7 linked regions of the Homo sapiens genome follow. The protein of the gene in region 4 purifies or fractionates together with the protein of the main gene of each other region. This does not show direct contact. Each region holds a gene or a part of one and is shown on either strand. Other genes may lie near its edges. The genes, in order: RRP12, RBM5, RPL22, NFX1, PRRC2C, HNRNPM and EIF3B.

What was found.
Region 1: the proteins of NFX1 (region 4) and RRP12 purify together in Homo sapiens (affinity purification with mass spectrometry, with the first as the bait; one large-scale study listed by BioGRID). This does not show direct contact.
Region 2: the proteins of NFX1 (region 4) and RBM5 purify together in Homo sapiens (affinity purification with mass spectrometry, with the first as the bait; one large-scale study listed by BioGRID). This does not show direct contact.
Region 3: the proteins of NFX1 (region 4) and RPL22 purify together in Homo sapiens (affinity purification with mass spectrometry, with the first as the bait; 2 studies listed by BioGRID). This does not show direct contact.
Region 5: the proteins of NFX1 (region 4) and PRRC2C purify together in Homo sapiens (affinity purification with mass spectrometry, with the first as the bait; one large-scale study listed by BioGRID). This does not show direct contact.
Region 6: the proteins of NFX1 (region 4) and HNRNPM purify together in Homo sapiens (affinity purification with mass spectrometry, with the first as the bait; 2 studies listed by BioGRID). This does not show direct contact.
Region 7: the proteins of NFX1 (region 4) and EIF3B purify together in Homo sapiens (affinity purification with mass spectrometry; 2 studies listed by BioGRID and IntAct, with this or other methods). This does not show direct contact.

The regions. Positions count from the first base shown.
Region 1 is NC_000010.11:97,366,841-97,370,340, forward strand, and holds part of RRP12 (RRP12-like protein), read right to left. Parts: intron 3,435-3,500; coding exon 3,327-3,434; intron 2,743-3,326; coding exon 2,585-2,742; intron 293-2,584; coding exon 201-292; intron 70-200; coding exon 1-69.
Region 2 is NC_000003.12:50,095,419-50,098,918, forward strand, and holds part of RBM5 (RNA-binding protein 5), read left to right. Parts: intron 1-3,500. UniProt on the Homo sapiens protein: Component of the spliceosome A complex. Binds to ssRNA containing the consensus sequence 5'-AGGUAA-3'. Regulates alternative splicing of a number of mRNAs.
Region 3 is NC_000001.11:6,193,096-6,196,595, reverse strand, and holds part of RPL22 (large ribosomal subunit protein eL22), read left to right. Parts: intron 1-3,500.
Region 4 is NC_000009.12:33,293,516-33,297,015, reverse strand, and holds part of NFX1 (transcriptional repressor NF-X1), read right to left. Parts: intron 2,597-3,500; coding exon 1,589-2,596; intron 1-1,588. UniProt on the Homo sapiens protein: Binds to the X-box motif of MHC class II genes and represses their expression. May play an important role in regulating the duration of an inflammatory response by limiting the period in which MHC class II molecules are induced by interferon-gamma.
Region 5 is NC_000001.11:171,586,530-171,590,029, reverse strand, and holds part of PRRC2C (protein PRRC2C), read right to left. Parts: intron 3,028-3,500; coding exon 2,809-3,027; intron 2,383-2,808; coding exon 2,279-2,382; intron 1,652-2,278; coding exon 1,525-1,651; intron 662-1,524; coding exon 425-661; intron 1-424. UniProt on the Homo sapiens protein: Required for efficient formation of stress granules.
Region 6 is NC_000019.10:8,451,475-8,454,974, forward strand, and holds part of HNRNPM (heterogeneous nuclear ribonucleoprotein M), read left to right. Parts: intron 1-3,500. UniProt on the Homo sapiens protein: Pre-mRNA binding protein in vivo, binds avidly to poly(G) and poly(U) RNA homopolymers in vitro. Involved in splicing.
Region 7 is NC_000007.14:2,368,327-2,371,826, forward strand, and holds part of EIF3B (eukaryotic translation initiation factor 3 subunit B), read left to right. Parts: intron 1-1,145; coding exon 1,146-1,356; intron 1,357-3,450; coding exon 3,451-3,500.

The sequences.
Region 1 (3,500 bases), on a different chromosome or scaffold from region 4:
TCAGCTTTCCGGATGTTGACCAGGACTCTGTGGTACTCCTCGGGCAACAGCCTTTTCACCAGCTCAAATCTGGAGGTGGCAAGGAAGGGCTGGTGAGAGGCACTGGCCAGACAGCACGACCCAGATGTAGTGTCCCTGGTAGGACTGGAAATCCTCGGCCCCTCGCTTGCCCTACCCCCGCCCCTGCTCAGTGCACAGACCCAAACTTGCGGATGAACTTGGTGAACAGGTTCCGAAGCTTCATGCGGAAGTGCCGCCGCATGTCATCTGAAAGCTTCCCAATGGCTTCCATCTGCCGGACAGAGCACCAGGCTTTCAGGGAGGCGAGCCTTCCATGCTGCGCCCCCTTTACTGCTGTCCAGCCCAGGGACGCAGCATGATCAAGCCCAGCTGAGGGGAGGGTTAGCGCGGCCCTGCTCCTGGCCCACACCCTGGCCCAGTCATGCTTCCCTCGGGTGGGCAGGCCCCATCTTTCCCCTGCACCCTCCTTCAGGACACAGGCCTGAGCACCCTCGCAGGATGAGAGCTTTAGTCTTCTCAACAGCACTTGGTACTTGACATATATCCTCTCCTTGAATCCTTGGACTACCCCTGAGATACATGCTATCACCCCCTATTTATAGAAGAGGACACGGCGGCACAGAGGATAAAGTGTTTGCTAAATGGCCATAGAGGTGGGAGTTCAGCCCAGACTCATCTAATGCTGCGGCTCCCGCTTTGCCCCTAGCACCCCAAGATTTCTCTTGGTCCCCTATGTCCCTTCCATCTCACTGCATTCTGCTCTGGCTGGATTCCTCTTAAGCCTTCATCTGGCCCAGTTTGGGTTACATGTGCAGGTGGCAGATCTTCTTATCTCCAGTGACTCCCAAACCGGCTAGGGGATAGGGTCCACGTCTACTCCTTTTTTTTGAGATGGAGTCTCGCTCTGTTGCCCAGGCTGGAGTGCAATGGCACGATCTCAGCTCACTGCAACCTCCACCTCCTGGGTTCAAGCAATTCTCCTGCCTCAGCTTCCTGAATAGCTGGGATTACAGGTGCCTGCTATCACGCCTGGCTAATTTTTGTATTTTTAGTACAGACAGGGTTTTACCATACTGGCCAGGCTGGTCTTGAACTCCCAACCTCAGGCGATCCGCCCACCTTGGCCTCCCAAAGTACTGGGATTACAGGTGTGAGCCACTGTGCCTGGCTTTTTTTTTTTTTTTTTTGAGACAGAGTCTTGCTCTGTCACCCTGGCTGGAGTGCAATGGCATGGTCTCGGATCACTGCAACCTCCGCCTCCCAGGTTCAAGCAATTCTCACACCTCAGCCACATGAACAGCTGGGACTACAGGCGCGCACCACCATGCCTGGCTAATTTTTGTATTTTTTAGTAGAGATGGGGCTTCACCATGTTGGCCAGGCTGGTCTCGAATTCCTGACCTCAAGTGATCCACCCACCTTGGCATCCCAAAGTGCTAGGAATATAGGTGTGAGCCACCGCTCCTGGCCTCCCCAACCACTCTTGGAAGGGCTTCTATAAATCCCTTTTTTTTGAGACAGAGTCTTGCTCTGTTACCCAGGCTGGAGTGTAGTGGTGCAATCTTGGCTCACTGCAACATCCGCCTCCCAGGTTCAAGTGATTCTCCTGCCTCAGCCTCCCGAGTAGCTGGGATTGCAGGCACCTGCCACCTCGCCCAGCTAATTTTTGTATTTTTAGTAGAGATGGGGTTTCACCATGTTGGCCAGGCTGGTCTCAAACTCCTGAACTCAAGTGATCTGCCTGCCTTGGCCTCCCAAAGTGGTGGGGTTACAGGTGTGAGCCACTGCAGCCGGCCAGGGCTTGTATAAATTCGAATAACTCCATGATGGATCACTGCTCTAGCTGTTCTCCCCACCTTTGGTCCCTAGTAGGCTGCAGGCTCCGAGGGCAGCGGGAGGGCATGCTGATTCTCATCTGTCCCTTCCTATCTTGAACCCAAGGCCAGACCCAAAGAAAATATGCAAGAGGGACCCAGAGGTCTGATGTGACTCAAGCCAGTCACACATGGGAAACTGAGGCAGTAGGTACAGTGCACAGCTTGGCTGGAAGCCTACGCCAGCCTGGGCAAGGCTTCTCTTGGGCAGGAGAGGGCCAGGGACCCTATACCAAGGGGCTCTTCAGATCCTTCTGCAGCCCAGCAGGGGACCCAAAGGAATGGCCTCTAACCAGCAAGGTCAAAATGCAAGATGGGAAAAAAAAAAAGGCAAGATGAGGGGGTCCTGTGGAGGGAGAGCCCAGCGTCTGAGTCCCATGATCTGGAAAATCTCTGGCCCAGTTTCTCCATCTGTAAAATGAGGAGTGGCCCTGCCCATGGGCCTTTGCCCTGAAGAGCCCCTGTTGCTTTCCATGTAGGGCTCTGGGGTGAAGAAAGCCACCTGGGCAGTGTGCCCCCTCCTCGCCTCCACCTGACAGGCATTCCCCTATGGTCCCTTTTAGGGCTCCTTAATGACCTCTGGCTACAAAAAAAATAGTTTGAAACTTGCTGGCCTCGAAGCTTGCCAGGTCCATGCCAACAGCTCAGAGGCCACCCTGCTACCTGCTAAGGGGAACGGGGACACTCACCACCAGCTGCACATGTTTGGCCAGGTGCGCCACGTCCATGACAGTCACTGCCACCTTGATGAAGCCCAGTGCAGACTTGACCACGTCACGGGTGCGGGAGGCCAGAAGCAGGCACACATTCTCCAGCAGCTGCTCCACTGTACTGGTCCCCATCAGACCTGTGGCAGTGAGGGGGTCACTGTCTAAGACACCCAGGACCCCACTCAGACCCAAACCTTCCCCACTGGAAAACAGCCACTCAAGTGTCAGTAAAAGCTGACATTGAGAGCCTTTCCGTATGCCCGGGATGGTTCCAATCACGCTCCATGGAGTGGTCTTGGGTCCTTTCGTCACCCTGAGGTGGGTGCTATTTCTTGCTTCCATTTTAGAGATAAGAAACTGAGGTGCTAAGAGGCTAATCAAGCTGTTCTAGGTCTCATGTGGTTGCCAAGAGGCAGGACTAGGACTAAAATCCAGGCATCAGCCCTAACCACCTCCTAACCACTCTGACAATGGGATGCAGGGCCACTGGACTGCACAGTCACACGTGGGGACAGACCTGAGGAAGGTGCCTTGGCATAGCCGCAAGGGCGGGAGGCAGCGACCCGCAGGAAGGGAGACAGGGAGGCAAACTGGGCTGGGTGTGGCTTTTCTTACTTCCTCCAGGCACCTTTTCCCAGTTCCAGGAGCCACTTTATCCTGACCTTTTGGGCATCTTCCTAATCTGAGGGCTTCTCAGGCCTTCTAGGAAATAAGCATTTACCTTTAAACTCGAAAAGGAGGTGGGTCAGGGCCAGGATGCTGCAGCTGACCATGGTCACCGCGCCCACCAGGCCAGGGTAGATCAGGACGAGGTAGCACTGCAGGGCCTCTGGGGACAGAGACCAACGTGGGTCAAGCAGGAAGGACCCACCAGGTAGGGGGGCTGAGGGCCAGA
Region 2 (3,500 bases), on a different chromosome or scaffold from region 4:
AACTACCCATTTGAAACCTCAGAAAAGCTTGTTAAAAAGGACGGCTCATTCAGACTGGCCAATTAGAGTCTTAGTGTACTTGGCACTGCCTGATTTCCAGCAGCATCTCTGGTCCTCACCCTTCCTTCCAGCCACACCCTACTTTCCACATCCTGGACTTTGGACATGTCCATTGCTCTACTGTTGTGCCTTTTTCTGCTTGGAGACGCCTGTATGTAAAGCCTGATCTATCGGGCAGAGCTTCTTCTTCGTTATTCTCTTCCTAAGGCACTGTATTCATGACTTTTGTGTAGCACCTTTACTGTAGCCATCAACACACATGTCTCATCTCTACCACAAGATCTCTGAAAATAGGCCTCTGTGTGAACTAGTCACCTCTGTGTCCCCAACCCTTGAACACAGTATGTTACTCAGCCAGTGCTCTTGGTAAAAATGAATGTGAGGTTTTAAAACAGCAGTGTGCCAGTATTTGTTTTCTTGGAGTAATCAAAGTAATATTCTGACTAATGTTTAGTTGAATTTTGGATAAAGCTCAAAATAAGCATTGGATTCCCGTAGCTTTGGGTTTCTAAACCCTGGAAGTAATGAATGTGACAAATGTGAGACAGGATATTAGAGTTAATAGTGGGTAATCATTCCATTATTTGTGATCCACTGCACATCTGCTACACTGTACATGTTAGATGCTACAGTGACACAGAGCTATGGATCTTGCCTCAAAAAAGCTTATGGATGAGTAGCTAAGGTCAGCAGATAATGGTGACAATGCAGAATAGAAAGGGGTCAGAGGCCGAGTATGGTAACTCATGCCTGTAATCCCAGCACTTCGGGAGGCCAAGGTGAAAAGAGTGCTTGAGCCCAGGAGTTCAAGTCCAACCTGGACAACATGGTAAGACGCATCTCTCCAAAAAAAAAAAAAAATAGCCAGTCTTAATGGCGCTTGTCTGTGGTCCCAGTTACTTGGGAGACTGAGGCAGGAAGATCACTTGAGCCTAGGAGGTCAAGGGTACAGTGAGTTGTGTTCACGCCACTGCACTCCAGCCTGAGCGACAGAGCAAGACCCTGTCTCAAAAAGAGGGTCATGTCGGAAAAGGTCCTATTGAAAGAGGTCTGCCTAAGAGCTCTTGAAGGTTATTTAAAGGAAATTGTTACTAGTGGAGGGTAAGGAATCTTCTATTTTTATTTTTGTGAGACAGGGCCTTACTCTGTCGCATAGGCTGGAGTGCAATCGCGTGATTGTGGCTCACAGCAGCCTCCAACTTTTGGGGCTCAGGCAATCCACCAGCCTCAGCCTCCCAAGTAGCTGGGATTACAGGCATGTGTCACCACTCCGAGCTAATTTTTTTTTTTATCGTTTGTTTTTTTTTTTGTAGAGACAAGGTCTCTCTTTATTGCCTAGACTGGTCTTGAACTCTTGTCTTCAATCAATCCTCCCGCCTGGGTCTCCCAAAGTGCTAGGATTATAGGCGTGGAAAACTAAGGGAATGGTGTGGTAGATGGGCCCTTCAGGCGGAGGGGTATCACATGAGCAGGGAATAGAAAGGTACTGAATCTAGATAAGGCCTAGCAATCGGCTTGATTTGGCTGGAGTCAGAGGCTTTTGGCAGGAGAGGGATGAGTGGCAAAGTGCTATTGTGGCTAGGGGCTAGAGTTCTCAAAAGTCTAGCTAAGCCTAAAAGAATATTACTGAGGGTTGGCCAGGTGCGGTGGCTCACGCCTGTAATCCCAGCACTTTAGGATTCTGAGGCAGGCGGATCACAAGGTCAGGAGATCGAGACCATCCTGGCTAGCACGGTGAAACCCTGTCTCTACTAAAACTACAAAAAAATTAGCCAGCCGTGGTGGCGGGCGCCTGTAGTCCCAGTTACTCAGGAGGCTGAGGCAGGAGAATGGCATGAATCTGAGAGGCGGAGCTTGCAGTGAGCCGAGATCGTGCCATTGCACTCCAGCCTGGGCGACAGAGCAAGACTGTCTCAAAAAAAAAAAAAAAGAAACTGCTACAAGTATTGATTTGAGTGTTAGAAATTTTAATGAGTGGTTGAATTCACAGGTGTGATACCTGAGGATAATGAGGATTGGCTGTGTGTAGTCTTGCAGCCGTTGCACCTAGTTATGGAAAGTAGAGGCCAGTGAGAATCTTGTTTCCACAAATTTCACCCTGTTTTTTTTTTCATGGTAGTATTCATGCCTGATATTATTGATGAAGAGACTAGTATATTTTTGTGGCCTTTTGGAAAAAGGAGTTGGTCTGACATTGGAACAAGCCTACCAGCCAGAATACTTTATTCTAGCCCCAATTAATGTTTGATTTATTAGGAGCCTAAGAATGTGATGAACTTTGAAAATTTTTACCAATAATTTAACTGTAAGAAAAGTATGATCCATTAAAAATGTTTACCTGGCCTGGTGCGGTGGCTCACGCCTGTAATCCCAGCACTTTGGGAGGCCAAGGTGGGTGGATTACCTGAGCCCAAGAGATGGAGACCAGCCTGGGCAACATGGTGAAACCCCTCTCTACTAAAATATAAAATATTAGCTGGGTGTGGCGACATGCGCCTGTAGTCCCAGCTACTCTTGAGGCTGAGGCAGAATTGCTTGAACCCAGGAGGCGGAGGTTGCAGTGAGCCGAGATCATGCCATTGCTCTCCAGCCTGGGCAACAGAGTGAGACTCCATCTCAAAAAAATTTAAAAAAAAGTTTATCATCAGGCTCTTCATTTTTTGGCTGTTGATTTTTTTCCTTATTTTGAGAGTAGGCCTCAAAGAGCAGGAAGGCTATTCTTGATTAGGCGTACTTCAGGGCACAGTGACGCATCCACTGCCTCTTTTAAATCTCATCTGAGTCCTTATTTTTATTTTTTTATTTTTTTAAAGATAGGGTTGCACTTTGTCACCCAGGCTGGAGTGCAGTGGTGCAATAGCCCATTGTAACCTCGAACTCCTGGGCTTAAACAGTCCTCCCACCTCAGCCTCCCAGGTAACTAGGACTACAGGTGTATACCATCATGCTTGGGTAATTTTTATTTTATTTTATTATTTTTTTTTGAGACGGAGTCTCACTCTTGCCCAGGCTGGAGTGCAGTGGCGCGATCTCGGCTCACTGCAACCTCCGCCTCCCGGGGTCAAGCGATTCTCTTGCCTCAGCCTCCCAAGTAGCTAGGACTACAGGCACGTGCCACCACGTCTGGCTGATTTTTTGTATTTTTAGTAGAGACGGGATTTCACTGTGTTAGCCAGGATGGTCTCCATCTCTTGACCTCGTGATCCACCTGCCTTGGCCCCCCAAAGTGCTGGAATTACAGGCGTGAGCCACTATGCGAGGCCTAATTTTTAAAATTTTTGTATACAGATGGGGTCTTACTGTGTTCCCCAGGCTGGTCTCACACTCCTGTGCTCAAGCGCTCATCTTGCCTCATCTTCCCAAAGCGCTAGGATTATAGGCTTGAGCCACTGTACTATCCTGCAGAACAAAGGACAGGGAGATTAGACTAAAGGATGGAG
Region 3 (3,500 bases), on a different chromosome or scaffold from region 4:
TGTGTAGAAGTCTCCTAAATTTGCATTTGCTCTAAATTCTCCAGAAGGTTGAACTATTGCCAGGATCAGTATCATTACAACAAAAATAATTTTTAAACACAAAATAATTATGGTCACGAATTATCCAGAATGGAATTTAGGTAACCTCTTATAGTTTATTGCCTTTATGTAGATGCTGTTTGCATCTGTGTCCTTCAAGAAATCCCCTATTTCCTTAGTTCTTTCTCTATCCAGTGACTTCTGGCTTTTCTGTGGCCTCCTCTTTTTCAACTTTGGTGTCTTCCAGTTTGGTATTCACATGGTGGCCCTGTTCTGGCATTATTCCTGCCTCCCTCCCTCTGAGCCATTCCCTCAGCCCACTCATCTGTTTGTGTGATTGTCTTTCCTTCTGGAAGCCTCCTTAGGATAGAAAACTTAAGTCATTTATGAATCTTGAGATGCAGAATTCAAGATTTCTGACCTAATCACTCTGTGCCCCATCTATGGTTAATGTATACTTTTTGTTTATTTTATTTTATTTACTTTGTTTTTTGAGACCAAGTTTTGCTCTTGTTGCCCAGGCTGGAGTGCAATGGTGCAGTCTCGGCTCACCACAATCTCCGTTTCCCTGGTTCAAGCCATTCTGGTGTCTCAGCCTCCCGAGTAGCTGGGATTATAGGCGCCTGCCACCACGCCTGGCTAATTTTTGTATTATTAGTAGAGATGGGGTTCCTCCATGTTGGTCAGGCTGGTCTCGAACCCCTGACTTTAGGTGATCCACCCACCTCGGCCTCCCAAAGTGCTGGGATTACAGGCATGAGCCACTGCGCCTGGCCATTTTATTTTATTTTTATTTATTTATTTTTGAGGTGGAATCTCACTCTGTCACCCAGGCTGGAGTGCAATGGTGTGATCTTGGCTCACTGCAACCTCCACCTTCCAGGTTTAAGTGATTCTCTTTCTCAGCCTCCCGAGTAGCTGAGATTACAGGCGTGTGCCACCATGCCCACCTAATTTGTGTATTTTTGTGGTAGAGACGGCGCTTCACCATGTTGGCCAGGTTGGTCTTGAACTCCTGACCTCAGGTGATTTGCCAGCCTCGGCCTCCCAAAGTATCGGGATTACAAGCATGAACCGCTGTGCCCAGCCAAATTTTTTTTTTTTTTTTTTGAGACGGAGTCTTGCTCTTTGTCACCCAGGCTGGAGTGCAGTGGTGTGATCTCGGCTCACTGCAAGCTCCGCCTCCCATGTTCATGCCATTCTCCTGCCTCAGCCTCCCGAATAGCTGGGACTACAGGTGTCTGTCACTATGCCCGGCTAATTTTTTGTATTTTTAGTAGAGACAGAGTTTCACCGTGTTAGCCAGGATGGTCTCAATCTCCTGCCTTTGTGATCCGCCTGCCTCGGGCTCCCAAAGTGTTGGGATTACAGGCGTGAGCCACCGCGCCTGGCCCCAAATTTTTATTTATTTATTTATTTTGAGACGGAGTCTTGCTCTGTTGCCCAGGCTGGAATGCAGTGGCACGATCTTGGCTCACTGTAAGCTCCGCCTACCGTGTTCATGCCATTCTCCTGCCTCAGCCTCCCAAGTAGCTGGGAAACAGGCGCCCGCCACCACGCCTGGCTAATTTTCTGTATTTTTAGTAGAAACAGGGTTTCACCATGTTAGCCAGGATGGTCTCGATCTCCTGACCTCGTGATCTGCCCACCTCAGTCTCCCAAATTTTTATTTTTTGAGAAAGGGTCTGTTGTCCAGGCTGGAGGGCAGTAGCATGATCCTGGCTCACTGCAGCCTCAACCTCATAGGCCCAAGTGATCCTCCCACCTCAGCCTCTGGAATAGCTGGCACCACAGGCATGCACCACCATACCTAGCTAATTTTTAAATTTTTTTGTAGAGGAAGGGTCTTCCTAAGTTGCCCAGGCTCGTCTTGAACTCCTGGGCTTGAGCAATCTTCCTGCCTTGGCTTCCCAAAGTGCCGGGATTACAGGTGTGAGCTACTGCACCCAGCCAGTTAACATATTTTGTATTGGAGTTTTTAAACAGAAAATTATAGGAATTTTGAGCTGAAAGGGACTTCATGTCATTGCCATAGCAAGAAAACAACTAAAAAGGTCCTTTTTGGGCAAAGCTTTCTGAAGCACAAGGAGGTGAATGTCTTGCTGAGGCCCACACAGTAGTTTGCAGAGAATATCTCAGGCTCCTGAGTGGCTGCTGCTTCTGCTGTACCACACATGGCCCTGGACCAGGTCTAGAATTGTTTCAGTCCCTATGTCTTTGCTCTTTCTACTAGGTTGAAGGCTTATTTTCTGATAGTGCTGTGAACAGTGTTTTATACTCCTTAGATTCAGAAGTTGCTTTTAGCTTTGGTTGCATGTACCTTGTAAAAGTTTGTTTTATTTATTTATTTTTTGAGACAGGGTCTCTCTGTCCCCCAGGCTGGAGTGCAGTGGTGTGATCTCGGCTCACTGCAACCTCCGCCTCCTGGGCTCAAGGGATTCTCCTGTCTCAGCCTCCTGAGTAGCTGGGACTACAGGCACATGCCACCACACCCGGCTAATATTTGTATTTTTTGTAGAGAGAGGGTTTCGCCATGTTGCCTAGCCTGGTCTCAAATTCCTGAGCTCAGGAGATCCACCCACCTCAGCCTCTCAAAGTGCTGGGATTACAGGCGTATCTTGTAAAAGTCTGGCCTTGGGTTTCCTGTCTAGTGTTGTCCTTCTAAGCCTTTCGTGGCGAGGCCCAGTCGGCCTTGTGTGGAAGTAGTCAAGTACGTTTACACTGGGATGTTGTCTCATAGTATGTATGTAAATGGGATTTGTTACCATTTTTAAAAAAGACTGAACATTTAAGAAACCGATATTAGGGCCAGGTATGCTGGCTCACACCTGTAATCCCCACGCTTTGGGAGGCTGAGGTGGGAGGATCACTTGAGCCCAGGAATTTGAGACCAATCTAGCCAACATAGAGAGACCCCTTCTCTTAAAAATGTTAAGCCAGGCGCAGTGGCTCACGCCTGTAATCCCAGCACTTTGGGAGGCAGAGGTGGACGAATCACCTGAAGTCGGGAGTTGGAGACCAGCATGACCAACGTGGAGAAACCCCGTCTCTACTAAAAATACAAAATTAGCTGGGCCTGGTGGCGAATGCCTGTAATCCCAGCTACTTGGGAGGCGGAGCAGGAGAATCACTTGAACCTGGGAGGCGGAGGTTGCAGTGAGCCGAGATCGCGCCATTGCACTCCAGCCTGGGCAACAAGAGCTAAACTCCATCTCAAAAAAAAAAAAAAAAAATTGTAAAGTCAGCTGGGGCCAGGTGGGATGGCTCATGCCCGTAATCCTAGCACTTTGAGAGGCTGAGGTGGGAGGATCACTTGAGTCTGGGAGGTCGAGACTTGAGCTTGGGAGGTTGAGACTGCAGTGAGCTGTGATTGCGCTGGTGAGACTCTGTCTCCAAAACCAAAACAAAAAATGATATTAGTTCAGTGTTGGGAGACAGATAAAATATTCTGTTGAGACAGA
Region 4 (3,500 bases):
TGAACTTTTTAATGGTCAGAACTGAGTACCTACTATGTTTCAAGAGCTGTGTGGGGCAGCAGGGTCACAAAAAAAGAAAAGAAATATACAGTGTCTGTTTTTAAGGAGCTTACAGACTAGTGGAGGACAATGAAGCATAAATAAATTATGGTTTCCAGTGTAAGTTCTGTAATAGAAGCATGCAAATTTAAGAGAAAGACATAAGCGTGAGGGCTGTAAGAGATTAACGCTATCTATAAAGGTGAGAAAAGGTTCCCTGGACATGTGACTAAAGTAACTTTTTTCCCCCCGCAAAACAGGGTCTTGCTCTGTTATCCAGGCTGGAGTACAATAGCTCACTGCAGCCTCGATCTCCTGGGCTCAAGTGATCCTCTCACTTCAGCTTCCTGAGTGTCTGGGACTACAGGCATGTGCTAACATGCCTGGCTAATTTTTTTATTTTAATTCTTTTGTAGTGACAGGGTCTCCTTATGTTGCCCAGGCTGGTCTTGAACACCTGTGTTCAAGTGATCCTCTCACCTCAGCCTCCCCAAGTGCAGGAATTACAGGTGTGAGCCACCATGCCTGGCCTAAAGTAGCTTTTGAAAAATGAGTAAGACTTCGTCAGCGAACTGAGTGACAGAAATTCTAAAGAGAGGGAGCCACATGCAACACCATGCAAAGACAAAAAAGTGTAGAATCCAGGGAATAAAATGTGGTAGATATTGAGGCAGCAGAAGATGGGACTGTTGAGTAAGGCAGAAGCAGTAAACGGAATTAAGCAGAGGAGTGACACAGTTTAATGTGTGTTTTAGGCAGGGCGCAGTGGCTCACGCCTGTAATCTCAGCACTTTGGGAAGCCGAGGCGGATCACCCGAGGTCAGAAGTTTGAGACTAGCCTGGCCAACATGGTGAAACCCCATTTCTACTAAAAATACAAAAATCAGCCAAGCATGGTGGCGGGCGCCTGTAATCCCAGCTACTCGGGAGGCTGATGCAGGAGAATCATCTGAACCCAGGAGGAGTTGCAGTGAGCTGGGATCGCACCACTGCACTCTAGCCTGGGCAACAGTGAGACTCCTCTCAAAAAAACAAATAAATAAAATATGTGTTTTATAAAGATTGCTCTCTGATGCTGGTTTAAGAGGTGAACTGAAAGAGAGAAATTAAGAGATGATAAGACCAGTTAGGAACTGCTGCAACTAAGCAGACCAGATGAGGCAGATTAGATGATGCAGGATGAAACCAAAAGAGGCAGCAGAGATGTTACCACCCACCACTTGTTTTCACAACTCAAAAAAAATCTTGTAACCAGACATCTACACCACCCGTATTTGCATTTTTGAAAACCCTTACAAAATTCCTCATTTGGAAAAGAAAAAGAATTCTTATTTGTATTTGCTTGTGATATGCATAAAACTAAGTGGTTACCTATTGGGGCAGGGAGCAGCGAGTGGTGGTAGAACTTAGGCAGACAGTGAATAAAGATTGAGACTTTTTACAGTGTAACTTTCCATACTTTCTGCTTTCTAAATTATGTGAATATATGACTTATTTAAAAATTTAAATTAAAAAGACAACAAAATATTTCCTATCTAGGTAGGTTTACCTGTGTGCGTTTCCACATTCTTTAGCACATGGTTCTGTTTGCCTCGGGAGAAAGGAGATACTACTTGAGGATCCTGCCTCCGTACAGTGCATTTCTCTTGGTCAACCCTCCTGGAAGACTTGTTGATGACTGCCAAGTTCTCACTGTCACAGGTAGATTTTGCTGGTCTTTCATTGAGGTCATCCTTTGGAATGGGGCCCATGTTGTTTCTGTGTCCTGCGTTTGTATGTCGGTGGCCCTCCTGTTTTGGTGGATTTCTGCCTGGTCGTGGCCTGGCCCCCTCCACTTCCCAGGGAGGCCTTTTCTGTGGGTATCTTCTCTGCTCATTTCGTCTGGCTCCATACCCATCCAATACTCCTTTTCTAGAGGATGCCTCTGAAGAGTCAGGGTGGAAAACCCCCACAGGTTTGGTACTTTCGGGTCCAGCATCCTCCGGTTTTGGAGTTGTTCGGTTACTCCATTCACATTTGAGTTTCCCCTTGACTTTTGGTCCTCTACCATAGCTGTATACAAACTGTGTTGCTTTTTTGGGTTTTGCTCCCCTGGGATCTGCACCCACAACTTCCTTCTCACTCTCAGAAGGACTATGCTCTCTGAGGTCTGTCCCACTCTCTGATCTGGTCGAGCTCTCTAATCCAGCTGTATCTGAGGTCTGCTCAGCAAGACTCTGTGCTTTCTTGACTCTGATATGGTGCTTCTCATTCCTCAATTTCTGCCAAGGTTGATTCTGAAGGCCATGGCTCTTGGGCGATTTATTACAAGGAGAGGACTGGAAAGACGTCTGCTGACTCTTAGGTTTGCTTCCTGACGGATGATAACTATGCTGATGAACAGCAGAGATTTCATCATAAGGGACCTGCCTGGAAAGGTGACAGGGAGGTGGTGAACTGTAATTTCTTCTACCAATCCTATTAGAGTCTAGTCTCCTTTGAGTCCCACAATTTAGACCAGAATTTTTTTTCTCCTGAGGAATGAATTCAGCAGCATCTGTATTGAATTTAAAAGTACCTAGGACATAAAAAATAGACATGCCAGTAAAGAGATTAAACTTCATCCATGAAACTCATAGACTCCAAGCCAAATCTAAAAATTACTTTCCTTAGAACTTTGTATAAAACATGCTGTTAAGTAAGAACTATGTTTCCAGTGAAGGTGATGGGTTCAAGGTGCTTGTGGAGGACTAATCAATCATTATTCCATGTCCAAAAACCAAACACCAATAGCCAATGACAGCTAAGTGTTGTCGAGTAAAAATGCTCACCTGGGCCATAAAGTACTATGTATACATCTATTCATTTTATTACAAAAATTTAAGGCCAGCTAACAGTTCAGGGGTATCAATCATCAGGTTCCATGTGGTCTTCTTTCAAAACAGTAAAGTAGCATTGTGTAATATCAAGTAAACAGGCTTTGGACTAAGCCAAAATGGGTTAAAGTCCACCTGTCCAACTTATTGTATGAACTTAGGGATATCACGTGCCTGCTTTTAGCCTTAGTTTCCTTGTCTATGGTAAAGGATGACAATACTTATTTCAACGGTTACTGAGAAATTTAAATATGATTTCATAGATAGTACTTAATAAGTGTATTAGTTTTCATCTCTTTCCCCTAGGAATATATTTTGGGTTTTCCATACATAACCTCTATAATCTGGTCTACAATCCCAAAGTGGAAAAAATTAAGCATACTCCCCTTCAACCCACTCATGTTCCCCCAGAAGATGCTTCTTGGTACAGTCAATTCAGTCCCTGAAGCACAAAGACAAAATGGTTTGCCTAAGGACATAAAATTAGTAGCAAAGTCAGAACTATGTGTAGCATACAGAATATACTATAAATTGGTAAGACCTGGAAGACATGGGTTTAAGTCACTTATCACTTATTTTAACTTCAGGAAAGTTACTTAGCCCCAT
Region 5 (3,500 bases), on a different chromosome or scaffold from region 4:
AGGGGAAAGGGGGGAAGAAAATATATATTAAAAAAAAAAAAAAAAAGAAAGAAAATGGGGAAGTCTATAATAATTGATATTACTTCTTTGCTATTCCAAAAAAAAGTGTGCATCTAAACTCAGATCTCCCTCAAATATTTATTTGATAACAATTCATTTGGCCACAGTTTAAGACATTAATTCATTTCCTGACTACAGTTGCAAAAAAAAAGAAAAAGAAAAAGAAACAAAAAGAAAAAAAAGATGAAAGGAATGGGAATGGGGGAAAAAAAAGAAAAAAAAGGGGGAATGAATAAAAGTAGTTAGCTTGGTTAAGTCTGCTAAGACAATGAATGCCTGGATATACAGTTATGGGTCCAGAGGCATTTTAAGACATGGTTCAGAGACAGATTCTTGATCTGTTGGCTGTTAACACTGTACTAACCTTCATGTCTTGTTCAGCCTTCAACGCAGCCTGGGCCTGATTACCTCTGACTCCAGATAGTGATCCACAAGGACCCCTGGCTACATGTGGCAAACGAGCATGGCTCATGAGGCCTGTGGTCAGCGGAGGAGGCATCTGACTGGCCAGTGCCATTGGTGGCCTCTGAACAGGCGCTGGGAAGGTGTTAGTATGTGGGGCTCTTACCAATGGAGGGACCAGGTTAGGCTGGGAGAGAATCTGAGTGAAAAAAACAAAACATACAACATTGAACTGTTAAAAAAAAAAAAAAAAAAAAAACTGCCAACTAGACCAGGTTGGCTCATCCCAGAGTAAATCTGTGCCCATCCTACCAGTGAAAGGAAGTGTACAGATTGTGCCATTCCATTAACAAGGACAAGGAATAAACAGGCCATGCTTGGAGAGTTTAACAGAAAAACTAGGCAAAGCATGCTATGGCACTTCAGTTGGTCCTAGCATCTCAGTTGTAAATTCTGAAGGGGGGATAGAAAGACTTTTAATTAGGCTATCTTTTCAAAAGGTAGTTGCAGAAAAGGCACACACCTGTAACAAATGTAATCTGAAGATAAATAAAATCAATACTAATTCAACAAATGTGAATTTCTCAGGAACCAGTTCTAGTTTGTGAGAGTTCTTAGTCCTTTTATACGATCAGCAAGGGGAAGAGAAGCCAACATTTTTTACATATATTAAAACATCTTTTTGGAAATTTTATCTCAATTGCACATAAATATCTTAACAACAACAAAAAACAACTTTAAACCTAGAAAACTTCAAGCACTGGGACCCTTCGCTGAAAAGTCAACTCCTTAAAAAAAGTTAAAAGGAAAAGGACTCATTATCAGAGCTGTGTGGGGAATCTTTTAACTATTTCTCTTGTCTGCTTTAGAACTAAACAATTACCATGTCTGGCTATAAATCGCAGACTATCTTTATAAAATAAATTTATTGTTAAATTCAGAAACAATTTTTTATTAAAAACTGTACTTCTTAACTGGTTAACATAAGGCAAGATAATAATTTATCAGATTAGCAACTATTTTTAAGTAAATAATACTCATTTCTTAATTATGTCTGCCCACCTGGGGTGCAAACTGTGTAGGAAATGGTTGTGTCATTCTCACAGTGGCAGGGGCTGACTGGAACTGCTTCTGGTAGACAATGCTGTTCATTTTGCTGGACTGGCTGTTCGGACTTGTAGAAGTAGCCCTTGGAAAGAAGCCATTACTAGTCAGTATAGTAATACCAAGTAAATAATGCTGTTAGATTTTTGCAAACACCGTTCTTGGTATTTTCATCATACTTGGTAGTTGGTAAAAATTTACTATGATGATTACCAAAACATTCTGGTAGAAGAGAGACATTGGAGGAGCAGAGGTAAGAAAGGATACCAGTTACCAGTTAGATTGGCTGGTTCGAGACCAGCTTGGACAATATTTTTTTAAAAATTAGCCAGGTGTGGTGGCACGTGTATGTAGTCCCAGCTACTCAGGAGGCTGAGGCAGGAGGCTTGCTTGAGCCCAGGTGTTTGAGGTTGCAGTGAGCTATAATCATGGCACTGCACTCTAGTCTGGGTAACAGTGTGAGACTCTGTCTCAAAAAAAATAAAAGAAAAAAAGGTTTGCTCTGTAACAAAAGAATTTACTTAAAATATAGTACAATAAACACATTTTAAATAATTTAAAAGCTTAACATTTTAGACAAAACTATCAAAAAGAATGTCTTAATAATTCCTTTTCTGCTTGGAAAAGGGATTATGTCACACAGGACTGATAAGTATTTAACAAATAGTGACCAAATTGGAATTTCATAAGCAAATTTAAATGCCCATTTTACCGGAAGGGACTAGATGTTGGTGTGGTGCTTCTACCAGCGATTGGAGGTGTGCCTGGTTTTATATCAATGCCACTTCCAAAGGCTTTTAGTTCCATTTCAGACATCTGAGGAGAAGCATAAAATAAACTTAACATTTCTTTAATTCCACAAGCTAAGTGCTGTGTTTACATGTCCTATACGTGAAGACGTAATCTAGGAAAGGGCAAAGAACCTTAGTACAAAACTCCTATAGTTAGGCTTCAAGTATTATGGAATTACCTGACCAAACAGACTTATAATTAAATAAGCCCAAGAGACACTATAAATCCAATTCTTCCAATAAATTTGTGAATTCTTTGTTATTAGGTAAAAACTAGATGGGGCCAAACACATTAAAAGTAAATAGATAAAATGTAAATATACTGGGGTTTGAGATTTTTGCAGGGTGGTAAAAACTGACGCATTTTAGTTTTTTAGATAACACAGATGCATATATCTGAACACACTACCTTAAATTCTCAAATAACCTGTGCAAATGTCTCTTTACTTACTTTTCCTGTGGTTGCAATCATGCTATGCTGTGTTCCAGCAGGAATTAATCCTCTGAAAGGCTGGCTTACTTGTGCAGGACGACTCAGACTCTGAGCCTGTGCTTGGGGAGTGGTATGCTGTAATGGGGGCTGAAGAGTCTGAGGCAAAGCAATTAGAGGTTGCCCTGTAGATCCAAAATTAGGCAAGGAAAGCTGCGATGCTGGTAAAGGTACTGTAACCTAGAAAATAAGTAAAGAGAAACTGAAGCAATTTGTTTCTGTTTACTACAGACATATCCATACAACTATACACAACTCTTCAAATACTTTTGAGTAAGATTTCAAACAGAACACATCGGCCAGGTGCAGTGGCTCATGCCTGTAATCCCAGCACTTTGGAAGGCCAAGGCGGGCAGATCACGAGGTCAAGAGATCGAGACCATCCTGGCCAACATGGTGAAACCCTGTCTCTACTAAAAAAAAAAAATACGAAAATTAGCTGCATGTGGTGGCATGTGCCTGTAGTCTCAGCTACTTGGGAGGCTGAGGCATGAGAATCACTTGGACCCAGGAGGGGGAGGTTGCAGTGAGCCGAGATCCTGCCACTGCACTCCAGCCTGGCGACAGAGCGAGACTCTGTCTCAAAATAAAATAAAATAAAATAAAATAAAATAAAATAAAATAAAATAAAATAAAATACATAGAACACATCC
Region 6 (3,500 bases), on a different chromosome or scaffold from region 4:
TTTTCAGGACATCACTTTTATACTATCACATCATCTAAACTTGAATATGTCCCTCCCCTTCCCCTTCCCCTTCCCTTGCCGAGACAGGGTCTCCCGCTGTTACCCCCGGCTGGAGTGTAGTGGTGCAATCATGGCTTACTGTACCCTTGACCTCCTGGAGCCAGACTGTCTTCTTTCTGCATAGCTGGGACCGCAGTTGTGCACCAACATACCTGGCTAATTTTTTGTATTTTTTTTGTAGGGACACGGTTTTGCCATGTTACCCAGGCTGGTCTCAAGACTCCTGGATTCAAGCACTCAGCTCACCTCAGCCTCCCAAACTGCTGGGACTGCAGGCATGAGCCACCATGGCCAGTCTGCTTGAATATGTGTCTCGAATGATATTTCTTTGAGGGTCATTCTCTACAAGTCTGTCAAGAATTAGTTGGTGGTGGTAGATTTCCAAAAAGGTCAATTTTTTAAAAGTTGGAAATGACAAGAGATAGTTCTAATCTCTTTACTGAGGAAACCTCTCAGAGGGAATGATTAGCCAGGGAAGGATTTGTTTGCAGAGGTGCTGTGCCCATTAAGCATGGTGAGAGCCGCTTTCTCAATGGTGAGTCATGTGATGTGGATTAACCCCAAACCAAATGCTCAGCTTCTGTGGTTAGATTGGATAGTTTATTCGTAGCCATGGTATGCACCTGTGGAATATAGGTTAGACACTTTGTTACCTGCTTTGGCTGTAATTATTTATTTATACATTTCGTAGTTTATAGGTGAGCTTAAGCAGTCTGGTGAAAGACTGGAAATAATTCATCATGGACTCTGTCAGAATGTTTTTTATTGTAAATCTTAAAGTATTTGGGACTTCAAAAGTAACAATATTAAAATTCATTTCCATCTGTGAATCCTCTGGTGGACCATGATGTGTAGATTCTGTTATGTTTTATGATTTTTTCTAACACAGTCGTCGTCATTTTCCAGGAAAGAGTAGGAGATGATTTGGCAGATAGATTTTGTTTGGCAGACTTTGGTGAAGGACTTTCTTTTGGAGTAGACAAGTGGCCTGGGTAACAGTTGTAGGTCTCCTGTGGGACCTGCTTTGTGGTGTGAAGCCAGTCTTGTGGACTCAGGTAGATTGCGTTCTAGGCATCTAGGGATTGGAGCTGCCATAACATCACCTTATCTGCCAGCCCGTGGGAAGGGAAGCCTGTTGATTGTGTATTGGTATAGTTGAGAGATCACAGAGGAAGCTGCTTTCCTTGGTTTTACCTTGTGTTGATTTGGGTGTGGCTCACACCAGTGATACCTCTGCTGGGATACCACTTGGCACTCTTGTGTTTGGGGACTACACAAAGTTGCTGACTTTAAAATTTTTCCAAGTAAATACGTTACTATTTTTGAGACAGGGTCTTGCTTTGTCAACCAGGCTGGAGTGCAGTGGTGCAATCATAGTTCACTGCAATCTTGACCTCCTGGACTGGAGCCATCCTCTCAGCTCAGCCTCCTGAGTAGCTGGGACTACAGGTGCACAACACCACACTCAGATAATTATTATTATTTTTAAAAATAAAGACAGGGTCTTATTTGTCGAACTCTTGGGTTTAAGTAAGATTCTCCTGCCTTGACCTCCCAAAGTGCTGGGATTATAGGTGTGAGCCACCATACCTGGTCTCAAGTGAATACTTTTGTTTGTTTGTTTGGAGACAGAGTCTCATTATGTCACTCAGGCTGGAGTGCAGTGGTGCGGTCTCAGCTCACTGCAACCTCCGCCCCCCGGGTTCAAGCGATTCTCCTGCCTCAGCCTCCTGAGAGGTGGGATTGCAGGCATGTGCCACCACGCCCAGCTAATTTTTGTATTTTTAGTAGAGATGGAGTTTCAGCATGTTGGCCAGGCTGGTCTTGAACTCCTGACCTCAAGTGATACACCTGCCTGAGCCTCCCAAAGTGCTGGGATTACAGATGGGAGTTACCACACCTGGCCTCAACTAAATAACATTTTAAAATAGTAGCTTCTCCAGCTACTATCTGGTGTTTCTTCCACGGAAGAAAGTTACATCCCAGAATAAAGATCGGCTCTTCAGTTAAAGATACTTTTATAAATCATTAATACTGTAGTCTTGGCTTTTTGGTTTTTTTTCCGGTTTTGTCATGGATTACAAATTCTGTAGTAGAGCCCGTGGTCTGGGAGTCACTGGATTCTCACTGGCGGGACACACAGGGCTGGGGAAGCAGAAGGTGCAAGGCTCAGTTGCTTAAGAAACTTGAGGTGGCTTCTGGCTCCTCACTTGTTCCTGATCAGCTCTAATCTGTGCCTCCCTGTAGTCAGAGGGGTTGCGCTTGAGCTGGCAGCTGAGGAAAGCGCCCTGTCAGCCAGTGCCCGGGCTTCCAAGCCTGATGGCTGCTACCTAGAGATGGTTAGTGTTAACAGTGTGGTGGCACCTAGCACACAAAGGTAAAGAGTGCAATGGGAAGGCCGTGCCAGAAAAGCAGCCACCCTTCTTTGCCAAAGGTGGGATTGTCTGCATGCTGTCTTCCACCTCCCAGGGTTGCTCAGACCCAAGTTTCCCAGCTTCAAAGTAGTAGGATTGTGTAGGGAGTGGTTTCTTTTCCACCTTTCTGGATTTTTAAAAAGTGGTTAAAATATACATAAAATAGACCATTTTAACCATCTTAAGTGTGCAGTGAAGTATGATGTTTTGCAGCAATCTGCACATTCCTGGAACTTTTATTCTCATCCCACATGAAATTCTATGCTCAGTATTTAATAACTTCCCATTTCTACCTCCCCCTAGGCCCAGGTAACCTCTGTTCTACTTTCTGTGTATGGATTTGCTTATTATAGGTATTTAATAAGTGGAATCATACAATATTTGGCCTTCAGTGACTGGCTTATTTCACTGAGCATAATGCCCTCAAGGTTCATGCATGTTGTAGCCTTTGTCAGGATTTCCTTCCTTTTTGTGGCTGAATAATATCCCATTGCATGGATAGTCCGTGTTTTGTTTATTCCATTCATCTATTGGTAGACACTTGGTTGTTTCTACCTTTTGGCTTGTGTGAGTAGTGCTGCTATGAACATTGGCATATGTGTATGAGTCCCTGCTTTTAATTCTTTTGGGTGTATACCTAGCAGTGGAATTGCTGGGTCATAGTAATTCTGTGTTTAATTTTGAGTGACTACCTAACTTTTCCATGGCGGCTGCATCATTTTATGCCCCCCCCCCCTTTTTTTTTTTAACACTATGAAAGACACTTATTTGTGAAGCTAAAATTGGATGGGCCTATGTGTACTACCTCATATTTCCATTCTATGAAGTCTTAGAAATCATCCCTCTCTTCTCCTGTTTCTGTCTTGGAATTAACACACCTTGGTCAGGGAGTTGGCCTCACCATTGTCTCTGTTACTGTCCGTAGGAGTATTTTGTGAGCCCAGGAAGGTGTACCTTTCCTTGGGAATGCTTTCTGCCCTGTGGAGCCTTGAGTTTGAATGTCTTAATTCAAAACCAACATTAGTC
Region 7 (3,500 bases), on a different chromosome or scaffold from region 4:
GAAGAGTCGGGGTTTCACCATGTTGGCCAGGCTGGTCTCGAACTCCTGACCTCAAGTGATCCGCCTGCCCGCCTCAGCCTCTCAAAGTGCAGGGATTACAGGTGTGAGCCACCGCGCCCGGCCTAAGGTGAGTTTGTTCTGGACACAAGGATGGAGGCTTGAGTCAGTGGGCAGCAAGGCTGCTCAGCATTGGGCCCGCCACCCTTGAGGCACCACTTCAGTGACCCCTTCCCGTGCCTAGAAATGAATTTTCAAGGCCAGAGCCTTGAGTCGGCTTCCTTCCATCTACCTCGTCTTTGATCTAGAAACTGAGGAGGGTGGGGTTTCCAGCCTTTTAAGGAAAAGAGGGGACTCTGCTTAGGTGAAAGGTTTTCCTGGTACTCTTCCATCCGAGGCAGGGTTTGGGGAGCCTTCGGCTCATTTTCACCAGCAAAGAATGGGCACGTTTTTATTTATCGCAAAACTTGGGACTGGTCAGTATCACGGCAGTGAACTTCCAACAATCCAAGGACATTGACGTTTCTTCTTTCGTTTTTACATTCTTGGGCAAAATTATGGCTTATAAAATGAAAAGACCAGGACGTTGGTTCTCAAAAAATGCAAAACAGCACATAGCGTGTATAAAGATGTTTTTCATGTAGGTGAGCTCAGGAGCCGTTCGTTACAGCAGCTCTTCTGTAGAGTAGTTGATAAAGTGGAGGGAGCTGCCCTTGTTCTTGCTCATTCCTTACACTTGATTTGCCATTTTCCCCATTTGCACCTTAATTAATCTTTAGATGACATGTAGCCAGATCCGTCAGCCTAAAACTTATTTGCCTCAAAGCAGCAGTGTGCGGTGTCTTAAGAGTGGGCTGACGGAGCCCAGGCTGGAGTCCATATGAGTCTGTGCGTGATGGTGGGGTTGCTAATATTCTGTCTGCATTCACTCCTTGTCACAGTGAGCACAGTAGTGCCACAGGGTCCTGGCGAGGACCTATGAAGCTGCGCGGCATGCCCAGAGCAGTGGCTGTGCAGAGGGAGCGCTCAGCGTCAGCTGTGACAGCATTGAGCTTCTATATAGCAAATGAGTTGTTCTATTCTCTTCTGCTTTTCAGTTTCGTCATCACTTGGTCTTTGCTTTAACATTTTATTTTCCTGTTCTGCAGAGACTTTTCTTGGTCTCCTGGTGGTAACATAATCGCCTTCTGGGTGCCTGAAGACAAAGATATTCCAGCCAGGGTAACCCTGATGCAGCTCCCTACCAGGCAAGAGATCCGAGTGAGGAACCTGTTCAATGTGGTGGACTGCAAGCTCCATTGGCAGAAGAACGGAGACTACTTGTGTGTGAAAGTAGATAGGACTCCGAAAGGCACCCAGGTATGTAGATTCCCACAGGAACTGACGATTCCTTATCCTGAGCTCTGAAGTGGCCACCGTATTGTTTGGAGGGTGTTAATGGATTTTTTTTTTTTTTTTTTTTTTTTTTTTTTGAGATGGAGTCTCACTCTGTCACCAGGCTGTAGTGCAGGAGTGCGATTTCGGCTCACTGCAGTCTCTGCCTCCTGGTTTCAAATGATTCTTCTGCCTCAGCTTCCCAAGTAGCTGGGACTATAGGCGTCCACCACCACGCTTGGCTAATTTTTGTATTTTTATTAGAGACAGGGTTTCACCATGTTGGCCAGGCTGGTCTTGAACTCCTGACCTTAGGTGATCTGCCCGCCTTGGCCACCCAAAGGGCTGGGATTACAGGCGTGAGCCACCGTGCCTGGCTGAGAATATTATTTTCTTTCTAAGCACAAGGAGTAGTATACTCAAGATTTATTTTTTTATTTTTTTATTTTTGGTGGTTGATCATTTAATATTTATTTTATCAAAAAATTGCCTGAGTTGGCTGGGTGTAGTGGCCCATGCCTGTAATCCCAGCACTTTGGGAGGCCGAGGTGGGCGGATCATGAGGTCAAGAGATTGAGACCATTCTGGCCAACGTGGTGTGAAACCCCATCTCTACTAAAAGTACAATAATTAGCTGGGCGTGGTGGGAGGCTCCTGTAGTCCCAGCTACTCGGGAGGCTGAGGCAGGAGAATCGCTTGAACCCAGGAGGCAGAGCTTGCAGTGAACAGAGCGAGATTGCGCCACTGCACCCCAGCCTGGCGACAGAGCCAGACTGCGTCTCACAAAAAAAAAGAAATTCCTGAGTTTTCCCTCTAATAGAAGTATTCTTCTTTCTTTTATGTTAAGAAAGCTTTAATTGACATGTAGTTCACATGCCTGAAAACACCCCTTTAGAGTGGTGAACTGGTTCAGTGGTTTTTCGTGTGTTCAGAGTTATGCAGCCACCACCACTCATTTCAGAACGTTTTCATCGGCTGGGTGCGGTGGCTCCCCCGGGGTGGGAGGGAGGATAGCTTGAGGCTAGGAGTTTCAGACCAGCCTGGGAAACACAGTGAGACCCCATCTCCACAGATAATTTTTAAAAGATAGGAAAAAGGCCGGGCACGGTGGCTCACGCCTGTAATCCCAGCACTTTGGGAGGCTGAGGCGGGGCATCACAAGGTCAGGAGATCGAGGGTTTAGTAGAAACCCCGTCTCTACTAAAAATGCAAAAAATTAGCCAGGCGTGGTGGCGGGTGCCTGTAGTCCCAGCTACTCGGGAGGCTGAGGCAGGAGAATGGCGTGAACCCGGGAGGCGGAGCTTGCAGTGAGCCGAGATTGCACCACTGCACTCCAGCCTGGGCAACAGAGTGAGACTCCGTCTCAAAAATAAATAAATAAATAAATGTTTTTGTCACCCTACAAAGAAACAACATACCTGTTAGCAGCCTCTCCGCCCAGCTCCTGGCATCACGAATGTCTATGATTTCCCTATTCTGAACACACAGCTGGAATCGGATACTATGCCACCTTCTGTGTTTGACCTCCTTCACGGAGCACAGCGTTCCCACAGCTGGTCCACGGTGCTGAGTGTCAGCAGTAATCTCTTGTTGGGTGGACCCCGTTTCTTGGCCTCCTTCCTCTGTTGATGGACATCAGGGCAGTTTTCCCTCAGACTCCTCGAGTAGGGCAGGACTTCTTGAAGGTTATGGCTACAGGACACCCCACTGTCTGAAGTGGTTTACCCAGCCCCATTGGTGTGCCTTTAGGGCCCTCAGGACCCTGGCCTGCAGCCTGCAGTGTGGACCCTGGGACTGCTTGTGCCCAAGTGTGGCGGGCAGGGCGGCTCCTGGAGGTGGGATCTGGGTCAGAGTTACTTCATGCATGTCCAGTGGCTTCCAGTAGACGTGGTGCCGGCAGTTCTCCAGCCTTAGAACCGTCTTCCATCCTGAGGGCTGTGGCTTTCATCACTGCACATGCTCGTGTGTGAACCAGGCATGCACACTGAATCTTTCATTGTGACGTTGATCTTTGATTTAAACCTTTTCTCATATTTTCACTGTCCAGAATGTCACCCCTTCCCCCTTTTTTTTAAACAGGGTGTTGTCACAAATTTTGAAATTTTCCGAATGAGGGAGAAACAGGTACC